Homo sapiens: one gene and its partners. The protein of the gene in region 1 purifies or fractionates together with the protein of each later gene. This does not show direct contact. Each region holds a gene or a part of one and is shown in the gene's direction. Other genes may lie near its edges.

Region 1 (3,374 bases):
GGCTCGCCTGGGTGCTACCTATTAGGTCCCACGTTAGGGCCCTGAGCACCACTTGTTCCCTGGCAGTGTGGTCTGGGTTCTTCAGGGAGCATCAGTTTGGCTGGGAGACCAAACTGTTATCTCTGGGCCTTGTTCCCTTTGTGACCAGTCTCAGAGCCGGGCATCAGGACACCAGCTCCTCCCACTTCTGGCTCGGCCTGACCATCCTCAAGCAGCTGCGGCCTCCAGACCGCTTCCCTCACCCCAAGCAGAGGGGCTGTGGGGCCTGGGCATGCTGGTGGCCCTCTGGAGGTGCTGGCTGCTGGGCCAGGAACGTGGGAGCTGGTGCAAGGGGATAGTTGGGGTTTCTCATTCTTAACCCTTGATTGAATCTCCCTTCTCTCTCTTTCCCTCTCCCTTCCAAACCCCAGGCTTGTTGCAGGGACGTGTCTGCAGCGCCTGGGGACCGGAGCTGTCCTTCCCCTGTGCGGGCGGGCACCGCCTCCTCCTGGGTGTGAGGAGGAGGGGCCTGGCCAAACGGTTCTGGGCATGTGAGGTGGGGCGGTGGGCGGGGGGTGCCGGGCATGTGCAGAGACCTGGTGATGCCGGGAGGGATACAGTACTGTTTGGAAAGTTCTTTTAAGAGTGAAAAGCCCCTTTGGGTTCTTCTTAGACATCTCGCCCTACCCCAGATGGGCAGAGCAGAGTTCATTTCCAATGCCTCTTTTGTGTAGTGCCAAGCTCCTGTCCCCCAGGAGCTGACGGATGGCAAAAAGCTGTGGACACCCAGCTTTGCCTGGTCTTATTCTCTTCCCTCTCCCTCTCCAGATTGAGTTTGTGACGGGCACCAAAAAAGGCACCACGACCAACGCCACGTCCACCACCACTACCACTGCCAGCACAGCTGTTGCAGGTAGATTGCAGAGCTGCCCTGCCTCCTGCCACACACATGGAGCCAGGGTCTCCCTGGCTTGTTTGGGCGACAGACAGCACGTGGATCTGGGCCTGGGCTCAGCCTTGCTACTTTGAGAAGCACCTTTGGAGTCTGGGGTGGGCCACTTCGGGGTCTGCTCCCTAGACTCCCGCTGGCCTGCAGGGGGAAGGGAAAGAGGGCACCGCTCATTGGTGGATCGTGATCCTGATTTCTGCTTTATCTCCAGATGCTCAGAAGAGAAAGAGCAAGTGGGATTCGGCTATCCCAGTGACAACGATAGCCCAGCCCACCATCCTCACCACCACAGCCACCCTGCCAGCTGTTGTCACGGTCACCACCAGCGCCAGCGGCTCCAAGACCACCGTCATCTCTGCTGTGGGCACCATTGTGAAGAAGGCCAAGCAGTGACCTGAGGGGCCACCCTAGGACTTGAAAGGACCGTGCAGCCCAGTGACCACTGCCCAGTGGGAGGCGCCACTTTGTATATTTCAGGACTGGGACCTACTCCCCAGATGCCACCTGAGAGGAGCTTCTGTTTGGCATTCCAGATGGAAGGACAGGCAGCACGGGAGCCAGGCGCTGTGGACAGGGTCTGTCCACGCACCACCTGGGGTCTGCCGCCTATTAAAAGTGCCGTATTCTTACCTCTTGGCATCTCAGATGCACTGGCCTCTCCTGCATTCTGTTTGCAGGCAAATGCTTCAGCTCACATGTCCCCCAAGACTCAATAGTCTTGGTTGGGACTATTGCCTCAGGGTTGACAACAGGGTGATGGAGGCCTGGGACGCTGTTCAGAGGGGTGACCCAAGAAGTCACCGTTGTTATCCGTGTATGCCTCTGGGCATGGACAGGCGGGAGTCCCCGAGCCCCACGTATGCCCCATCTGCCGCCTTGATCCCAAAACCCAGCCAGTTCTCGGGTGATGGTGGAGCTGTGCTCCCTTGAGTGCACTTGAGCACTCCCCAGACCAGATCACTTTTTGGACACACCCAGGAAGGCTTTTGAAGTCAAGCCAGTTTCCAGAAGGGCTGGGGTGAGATCCTGACCTGTGCAGAGAGTGGGGAGGCGTCAGCGCCTGGCCAGGGCTGCCCCAGTCCTTTGGTGCCCGGTGAGCGCAGCCAGCAGGAGCTGAGCAGCGGGGGAGATGAATCACCTCCTGCCTTGGCGAGGCGGCAGCTCATTGTTTACAGGCAAGCCCTGCTCCTGGGAGGGCTCCTGCCACCCCACCCTTCCTCTGTGTGTTATCTCTGCCCCACAGCAGCCCCTGGGCAGCACCAGTGGCCACTGGGCTCCCCCCGGGGTTGAAACGGGTTTCCCAGACCAGGGGTTCAGAGGAGACTATTTACCCTTCATGATCTTTGGCGATTCTCCACTGGAGCGGAAGGGCTGTGTGTCAAAAGAAGGAAGCCAGGCTGTGAAGGGCCGTGTTGCTTTCAGTGGGTGGGCAGAGGTTTAGAAAGGTGGTTCTGAAATGGCACCTGGTACTCTTGTGGGACCTGGGGAATATAAGGAACTCTGTGCATGAGGTTTCAAAAATAAAAATTGAGTCCACTCTCCCCGTACACACACACTCGGGCACTTCAGGAGGTCAGTTCTCACCCCTTCCTCGATGGGGCTTTAAAGCTCTGGGGAGAAGAGCTGCTCCCCACTCATGCCCCAGAGGGACTGTGAAAAGGCTTCCTGTGACCTCCGATGGCGGCCCCTCATTGGCCAAGGGCACTGTGGATGTTTTGTGGGAGGCAGCATGGCACCGTGGAAAGGGCAGTAGACGTGGAGCCGGCACCTCTGGTCTGGATTCCACTTAAAACCAGTTGAGTGGTCTCAAGCCCTTAACCTCTGTAAGCCTGTTTCTTCTCTGAAATCACAGTAATAAAGCGTCGTAAGATGGTTGGGAAGAACCAGAGGTGACTTATGCAAAAGCTTTATAAACTGTAAAGTTCCTGCCAGTGTTTTTTGTTGGCTAAATCCAATTTTTTTTTGTTGTAGACCAAGGAGAGAAGCAAACTCCTGGCCTGTCCCCCGTCTCGTGCTCTGTCGGCGGGGTAGGGTTTGGCAGGTCTTTCCCCTCCCCGCTTTCCTCTGGGCAGCCCTGGCGCTGCCATTCATCTGTCCAGTTAAAGCAGTAATGACTGTCTCCTGCGGGGCCGCAGAGGTAGGGGGCCTGGAGAATGAACATAGGCTTAGAAGTTGGGCAACCCCAGGCCAAAACTGCTGCCCCACTTACCAGCCTCGTGAGTTGGGTCAAGGTTTTTAATCCTTCTAGACTTTCATTTACTCTTCTATAAAATGGTGCTTGCCCACCTTAGTCACATCAAGGATGGCCCAGAGGTGTGTGAACAGTTCCTGTTGTGGGTGGATGGCCCAGGCACTAGGGGCCAAAGTTGTTTCTAACCAGTGTGTGTCTGCTCGCCAGAGAACAGTGTCCAAACTGAACTCTGTCCACGGCTCCTACTGTCCCCCA
Region 2 (3,652 bases), on another chromosome or scaffold:
AGTGTGCCTTTTGGGACTAGGACACAGCCTGGCTTTTTCATGTCTTAAGGTTACTTACTCATGTTTCTGTATTTTTCTGACTTTGTTGGGTCTTCTACAATCAGCAGCAGCCCATGAGGACTAGGAGGCTAGGCCACTTTGTTGGATCATATTGTCATATAAGTTGAGTATCCCTAATTCAGAAATCTGAAATGTTCCAAAATATGAAACTCTTTGAGCTCCATAAAATTCAAAGGAAATGCTCATTGGAGCATTTCAGATTTTGGATTTTCAGGTTAGGGATGCTGAATATAATACAGATATTCCAAAATCCAGGAAAAAACAAAAATGAAAATCCAAAACATTTTTGGTCCCAAGCATTTCAGATAAGGAATACTCAGCCTGTAGTGCATTCAAACCCAAATGAGAAATGGGTCCCAAAACTGTTTAACTTACGATTTTTTAATTGAAAATGTAAAAACAATAAATCTGTCTTTGAACATTCTAGTAAGGAAAATACTGGATTTTAAGTATAACTGTTAACGCTGTAATGTTTGGAATTCTTAATTTTTTTACTCTTGATTCTTTTTTTTTTTTTTCTCCTAGGTTTCTCAGTTTGGGTGCAGATCATTTGCTTTGCTTTTTGATGATATAGACCATAATATGTGTGCAGCAGACAAAGAGGTATTCAGTTCTTTTGCTCATGCCCAAGTCTCCATCACAAATGAAATCTATCAGTACCTAGGAGAGCCAGAAACTTTCCTCTTCTGTCCCACAGGTATTGTATATAATGGCTTTACATTTAACTAGTCTTCTTGGAATATATAACTTATAAAGGACCATGGGCCCCATTCTCTCTCCACTTCCCTCCTCCTTTGGTGTGTAAAAGTAGGAATCTTTTTTTAGAAGACATTTTTCAAGATCCTAAATTGGAGAAATTTTAGGAACTAATAAATGACAACTGACTAGGCAAAAGATTTTTATGTATTTTTAAGTACTGGAAGTATATGAACATTACATTGTCAATATTAAAAGAGGGATAGTATTGAAATGAAAACTGGAGAAAAACCAAATTACATTGCTTTTACCTTAGTCACTTCTCATTTCCTCCTACTTGTCCCCTTTTTCTGCCCATGCATATCTGTCCCTTTTTGCACTCCTCCCACTCCCATCTGGGCTCTTATTTCAAGTAGTCAGCATAGAAAGCTTAACAGTTTTTCCCGTTTTCCTTTCTTTTTGCCCCTCTGGTTTCTTTCATTGAAAATATTTTAGTCTCTTAGTTGCTTCTCAAAATTCAACTTACAGGAAGTTTTCCCCACACTTCCTTGTTCAGGAAGAATTTTAGATTAAATTATTTAACTTTCTTTGTGTGTATTGTGAGCCGAGAACCTTATTTTAGTTGAGTACTACATTAGTACCCAGAAGTTTTAAGATTATACTGGGAATTAATTAGCTGCAAGTTACAGTTTAAGTTGCAGTTGAGTACTAATAGCCATTGGTATATGCCTTTAAAAAAATTTTTTTTAAATTTTACTTTTAAGTTTGTATTATTTATTTAGAGACCGGGCTATAAAACTGGCTAATTTTTATATTTTTGGTAGAGACGGGGTTTCGCCATATTGCCCAGGCTAGTGTCGAACTCTTGGGCTCAAGTGATCCACCCGCTTCAGCCTCCCAAAATGCTGGGATTGCAGGTGTGAGCCACTGTGCCCAGCTGCCATTGGCATATTCTTGTATTAGTTCTATTATGATATTATCAATTCATTCTGTTTGGCGTTTAATTGTAACTGAGAAAAGTAGGCAATTCAGAATTCTGTAGAAAATGCTGCAGTTCTTGTTTTTTTAGTAAACTTGTATTTCTAGTAACTGTAGTATCGTAAGAATTGATCTGTACTACTGTTGGAGGAAAAATACCAGATTTTATGAATTTCTTAAATGAACTGCCCACTTTAGTTCCTTGTAGGAGGCCTTTTATCATTTAGATGAAAATAATTTAGAATTGGCAGACATTTTTTCCACATTCAAAAACCCATGGGCCTTTTGGGAGGCCAAGGCGGGCGGATTGCCTGAGCTCAGGAGTTTGCGACCAACCTGGGCAGCATGGTGAAACCCCATCTCTACTAAAATACAAAAAAAAATTAGCCGGGCGTGGCGGCGTGCGCCTGTAGTCCCAGCTGCTTGGGAGGCTGAGGCAGGAGAATTGCTTGAGCCCAGGAGGCAGAGGTTGCAGTGAGCCGAGATCGTGCCACTGCACTCTAGCCTGGGCATCAAGAGTGAGACTCCGTCTCAAAGAAAACAAACAAACAAAGAGAAAACCCATGAGCATTTTAATTCTGACTTTTTTACTTTTCTCCCTACATTTAGAATACTGTGGCACTTTCTGTTATCCAAATGTGTCTCAGTCTCCATATTTAAGGACTGTGGGTGAAAAGCTTCTACCTGGAATTGAAGTGCTTTGGACAGGTAAGTCTTTTAAGATTTATACAGTCAAAGTTGAATTAAGTAGGACTTGCAGAAATTGCTTGTTCTTGTTAATTGAATACTTTTTTTTTTGAGACGGAGTCTCACTCTGTCGCCCAGGATGGAGTCCAGTGGCATGATCTCGGCTCACTGCACGCTCCGCCTCCCAGGTTCACACCATTCTCCTGCCTCAGCCTCCCGAGTAGCTGGGACTACAGGCACCCGCCACCACGCCTGGCTAATTTTTTGTATTTTTAGTAGAGACAGGGTTTCACCATGTTAGCCAGGATGGTCTCGATCTCCTGACCTCGTGATCCACCCGCCTTGGCCTCCCAAAGTGCTGGGATTACAGGCGTGAGCCACCACGCCTGGCCTTTTTTTTTTTTTTTTTTGAGACAGAGCATTGCTCTTGTTGCCCAGGCTGGAGTGCAGTGGCACAATCTCAGCTCCCTGCAAACTCTGCCTCCCGGGTTCAAGCAATTCTCCTGACTCAGCCTCCCAAGTAGCTGGGATTACAGGCACACGCCACCACACCCAGCTAATTTTTGTATTTCTAGTAGAGACGGGGTTTCTCCATGTTAGCCAGGCTGGTCTCAAACTCCCGACCTCAGGTGATCTGCCCACTTCGGCCTCCCAAAGTGCTGGGATTACACATGTGACCCACTGCACCTGGCCCAGAGAACTTGTTAAAATACGCTTTCTTTTACAAAGTTTACATATTCTCTTAATATGAAAAAACATCTATCATGGTTGGGGAGCCTGAGTGGGGAGCCTGAGGTGGAAGCCCCCAGGAGTTCAAGACCAGCTTAGACAACATAGAGAGACTGTAGAAAAAATAAAAAACTTAGCCAGGTGGGCTGGTGCACACCTGTAGTCCCAGCTACTTAGGGGGCTGAGGTGGAAGGATCACTTGAGCCCGGGAGGTAGAGGCTGCAGTGAGCTGTGATCATGCCACTGCACTCCAGCCTGAGCAACAGAATGAGACCCTGTCTCAAAAAAAATTCAGTTAATAAATAATAAAGATTTATAGGGAATTGGGCTAAAAGGTATTGATCCCATCCTTAAGCAGCGTTAGGAAACTCTTCTATTTTATAAAACGAAAAAAATAAAGCTCAGTAAAAGACATGTTGTGTTTTCAAAAGAAAAATTGTGGCTGGGTGCATTGGTTCGTGCCTGTAATCCCAGTGCTGTGGGAGGCTTGAGTTGAGGTAGG
Region 3 (3,652 bases), on another chromosome or scaffold:
TCTTTCCTCAAACACTAACCTCTTTGGTTAGATCAGGTATGCCTGGCTTTTTTGTTTACATTTCTTTTCAAAACCTTCAGATTTTTTTGTTTGTTTTTGTTTTTTGTTTTTTGGTTTTTTTTTTTTTTTTTTTGAGACAGAGTCTCGCTCTGTCACCCAGGTTGGAGTGCAGTGGCACGATCTTGGCTCACTGCAAGCTCCGCCTCCTGGGTTCACGCCATTCTCTTGCCTCAGCCTCCCGCCCAGCTAATTTTTTGTATTTTTAGTAGAGACGGGGTTTCACCATGTTAGCCAGGATGATCTCGATCTCCTGACCTTGTGGTCCACCCGCCTCAGCCTCCCAAAGTGCTGAGATTACAGGCATGAGCCACCGCTCGCAGCCAACCTTGGGATGTTTTTAATACTCCATACACATTAATGCAGAGCTTCTAGTGGGATATTTACATTTTTTTTCAGGCTTCCTGTGTATTTATGTATATCTTTAATAAAGATATGCCTTTTGAGTTTTTAATGATTTTTAAATTATACAGCAATGACAAGTGCTTTTAAAAAAATTAAAAGGAAATTTAAGCAGAATTGACAGATAAGGCAGAAGTTCTTCAATCCCTGTTCTGTCTCCTACTCCCAACTTTGCCTAAACCCCCATTCCCCAGCCAGGCCACTACCCTTAGGAGTTTATATCTTTCTAGACCAGTGCTGTCCAATAGAGCTTTCTGTGATGATGGAAATGTCCTGTATCTGTGCTGTCCAGTCCAGTGGCTTCTAGCAGCAGGGGGCTATTGAGTACTTGAAGTGTGGCTAGTGCAACTGAGAACTGAACTTCTAATTTAATTTAATTTAAAGTAATTTAAATTCAAATTCCCTATGTGGCTAGTCACTATTGTACTGGACAGTGCAGTTCTAGACCTTTGTATATGCTTTTTTGTTCACTCATAGACAAAATACTGATTTGTGTGTGTCTCTATATCATAAACGGTCTTATATGTATGTGTTGGTCTGCAACTTGATTTTTTTTTTTAACTCAGCAGTGTGTCTTGGAGAACCTCCCATCTTATTACATAAAGACCTAGCTCATTGTACTTTTTTTCAAATTCCTAATTTTGTCAGTAATTTCCTTTACTAAAATGGATGTGTCAGGTTGTGAAATTCTTTGGGGTTCCCCCCCTCCTCATTATCTTTGATTTGCCATTAAGTGCTGTGATCATGATAACCCGCTGAGAAAAAGTTTGATTTTATTGAGTAATCACCCCATGTTTTGGATTCTTGGGCATGCTATGATTAGAGGCTTTAAAAACCACACTATATTTTCACCACCATTGGCACCAATGACTGTTAACAAAGGAGCCAAGTGCACCGTGGCCAATTAATTTCAGAAGACTTTCTGTGGGCTGGCTGAGATAGAGCTAGGATAGGGTTCCAACCCTGCACTTGGTACTGTGATCTGTTGCATTGGTTCTCAGACTTCAGTGGATGTAAGAATTGCTTAGAGAGCTTTAAAAAAAGTGTGGATGCATGTGTCCTCACCCCTAGAGGCTGTGATTAGTAGACCCAGGCAGCTGTGCTTTTAAGACATACTCAAGTTGATTCTGTCACATATCTAGTATATTGGAAAGAGTCTTAAACTAGTCCAGATGTCACCTTTGGTATTCACTGTAGCAGTGAGCAAGTTTGTTGATTGTTTTGTATCTTAATGTTCTCAACTATCGGAACAAAAATATTCCTTGCTTTGGTAGCCTTCCAGGTTGTGAAAATAAAAAGACATGTGCAAAATACTTTTGGAAATTAAAAGTTGCAAAGTTTTGTAAAAGTATAAAATTCATCTTAAACTAATGCTATACTATGGACCCTGGTGATGGTAAAGTGATTGTTTGATCCTCGGTTCTCTAAGAGTTACAGTTCAAATATGTGAAAAACTTCCCCAGTCTGAGATACTTGACTCAGCTTTGATGTTCTTATTTTCAACATTTTAAAAAATTTTTATTTCACTTCAAGTTGTGGGATACAAGTGCAGAACGTATAGGCTTGTTACATAGGTATGTGTGCCATGTTGGTTTGCTGCACCTATCAACCCATCATCTAGGTTTTAAGCCCCACGTGCATTAGCTATTTAACCTTAATGCTCTCCTTCCCCTCGCCCCACTACCCCGAGTGGCCTGGTGTGTGTTGTTCCCCTCCCTGTGTCCATGTGTTCTCATTCTTCAACTCCCACCTATAAGTGAGAATATGCGGTGCTTGGTTTTCTGTTCCTGTGTTAGTTTGCTAAGGATGATGGCTTCCAGCTTCATCCATGTCCCTGCAAAGGACATGACTTTTTTTATTTTTTGAGGTGGAGTCTTGCTCTGTTGCCCAGGCTGGAGTGCAGTGGTGCAATCTTGGCTCACTTCAACCTCCGCCTCCCGGGCTCAAGGGATTCTCCTGCCTCAGCCTCCCAAGTGACTGGGATTACAGGCACCCACCACCATGCCTGGCTAATTTTTTTTTTGTACTTTTAGTAGAGACAGAGTTTCACCGTGTTGGCTGGGGTGGTTTCGAACTCCTGACCTCTAGTGATCCTCCTGCCTCGGCCTCCCGCAGTGCTAGGATTACAGGTGTGAGCCACTGTGCCCAGCCTGATCTCATTCCTTTTTATGGCTGTATAGTATTCCATGGTGTATATTTACCACATTTTCTTTATCAAGTCTTATTATTAATGGGCATTTGGGTTGGTTCCATGTCTTTGCTATTGTAAGTAGTGCTGCAGTAAACATATGTGTGCATGTGTCTTTATAGTAGAATGATTTATATTCTTTTGGGTATATACCCAGTAATGGGATTGCTGGGTCAAATGGTATTTCTGGTTCTAGATCCTTGAGGAATCGCCACACTGTCTTGCACAATGGTTGAACTAATTTACACTCCTACCAACAGTGTAAAAGCGTTCCTACTTCTCCACAGCCTCACCAGCATCTGTTTCCACATCTTTTTAGAACCTTTGCTGCATGTATCAATTTTTTTTGACATGAATTTTTGTGAAATTTCCTAGTCTAAAAAAGAAACCGATATCTCAAGTTAAAATCTGTTAGTTATGTTAATTTTGGCATTGGTTTGTATGAAGTTTTAATATTTAAAAAAACACAGCTATATCAGGAAGCTGAAAGTGCTGTGTCAGGTGGAAAATTTTTTTATCAGTGGAGATGTGTTTATACGTTGTCATGGTTTTACTCTAGTCTAGGACATTTTGTTTCAGCCATTTTCTAAAATGGCTGTAGGTTCCATTTATTAATATATCTCTGCTATTATGTAATCTGAGCAGTGATATTATACTTCTTGGTATTGTACATAGAATCTAATAGAGTTAAAAGCTTTTTAATAATATTTGCTGCCACCTCACCAAGTTATGATTGTTAGAAACAGTAATTGCTGTGTTTTGACACTGTCATTTTGTACAGTGCAAGCAATCATTTTTACCACAATTATCACATTTTTTCCACTACCAAATAACTTAACAATGAAGCAAGAAAATATTCTTCCCAAATATTTATTATTACCAAGCTTCTTAACGTAGGGGTTTAACTTTTACAGGACGTTAGCCAATTAATCTTACCTTTACCTTAAAGCGTGTGCTTCTATAATGCTTTGTTCAATTTATGTTTGCTTTAGTGACCTTAAAAAT

What was found.
Region 2: the proteins of SAP30BP (region 1) and OGA purify together in Homo sapiens (affinity purification with mass spectrometry; one large-scale study listed by BioGRID and IntAct). This does not show direct contact.
Region 3: the proteins of SAP30BP (region 1) and OCRL purify together in Homo sapiens (co-immunoprecipitation; one large-scale study listed by IntAct). This does not show direct contact.

The regions. Positions count from the first base shown.
Region 1 is NC_000017.11:75,705,201-75,708,574, forward strand, and holds the end of SAP30BP (SAP30-binding protein), read left to right. Parts: intron 1-410; coding exon of another isoform or gene 411-491; intron 492-807; coding exon 808-892; intron 893-1,139; coding exon 1,140-1,321; 3' UTR 1,322-2,859; downstream 2,860-3,374. UniProt on the Homo sapiens protein: Plays a role in transcriptional repression by promoting histone deacetylase activity, leading to deacetylation of histone H3.
Region 2 is NC_000010.11:101,804,835-101,808,486, reverse strand, and holds part of OGA (protein O-GlcNAcase), read left to right. Parts: intron 1-585; coding exon 586-757; intron 758-2,343; coding exon 2,344-2,442; intron 2,443-3,652.
Region 3 is NC_000023.11:129,571,250-129,574,901, forward strand, and holds part of OCRL (inositol polyphosphate 5-phosphatase OCRL), read left to right. Parts: intron 1-3,652. UniProt on the Homo sapiens protein: Catalyzes the hydrolysis of the 5-position phosphate of phosphatidylinositol 4,5-bisphosphate (PtdIns(4,5)P2) and phosphatidylinositol-3,4,5-bisphosphate (PtdIns(3,4,5)P3), with the greatest catalytic activity towards PtdIns(4,5)P2.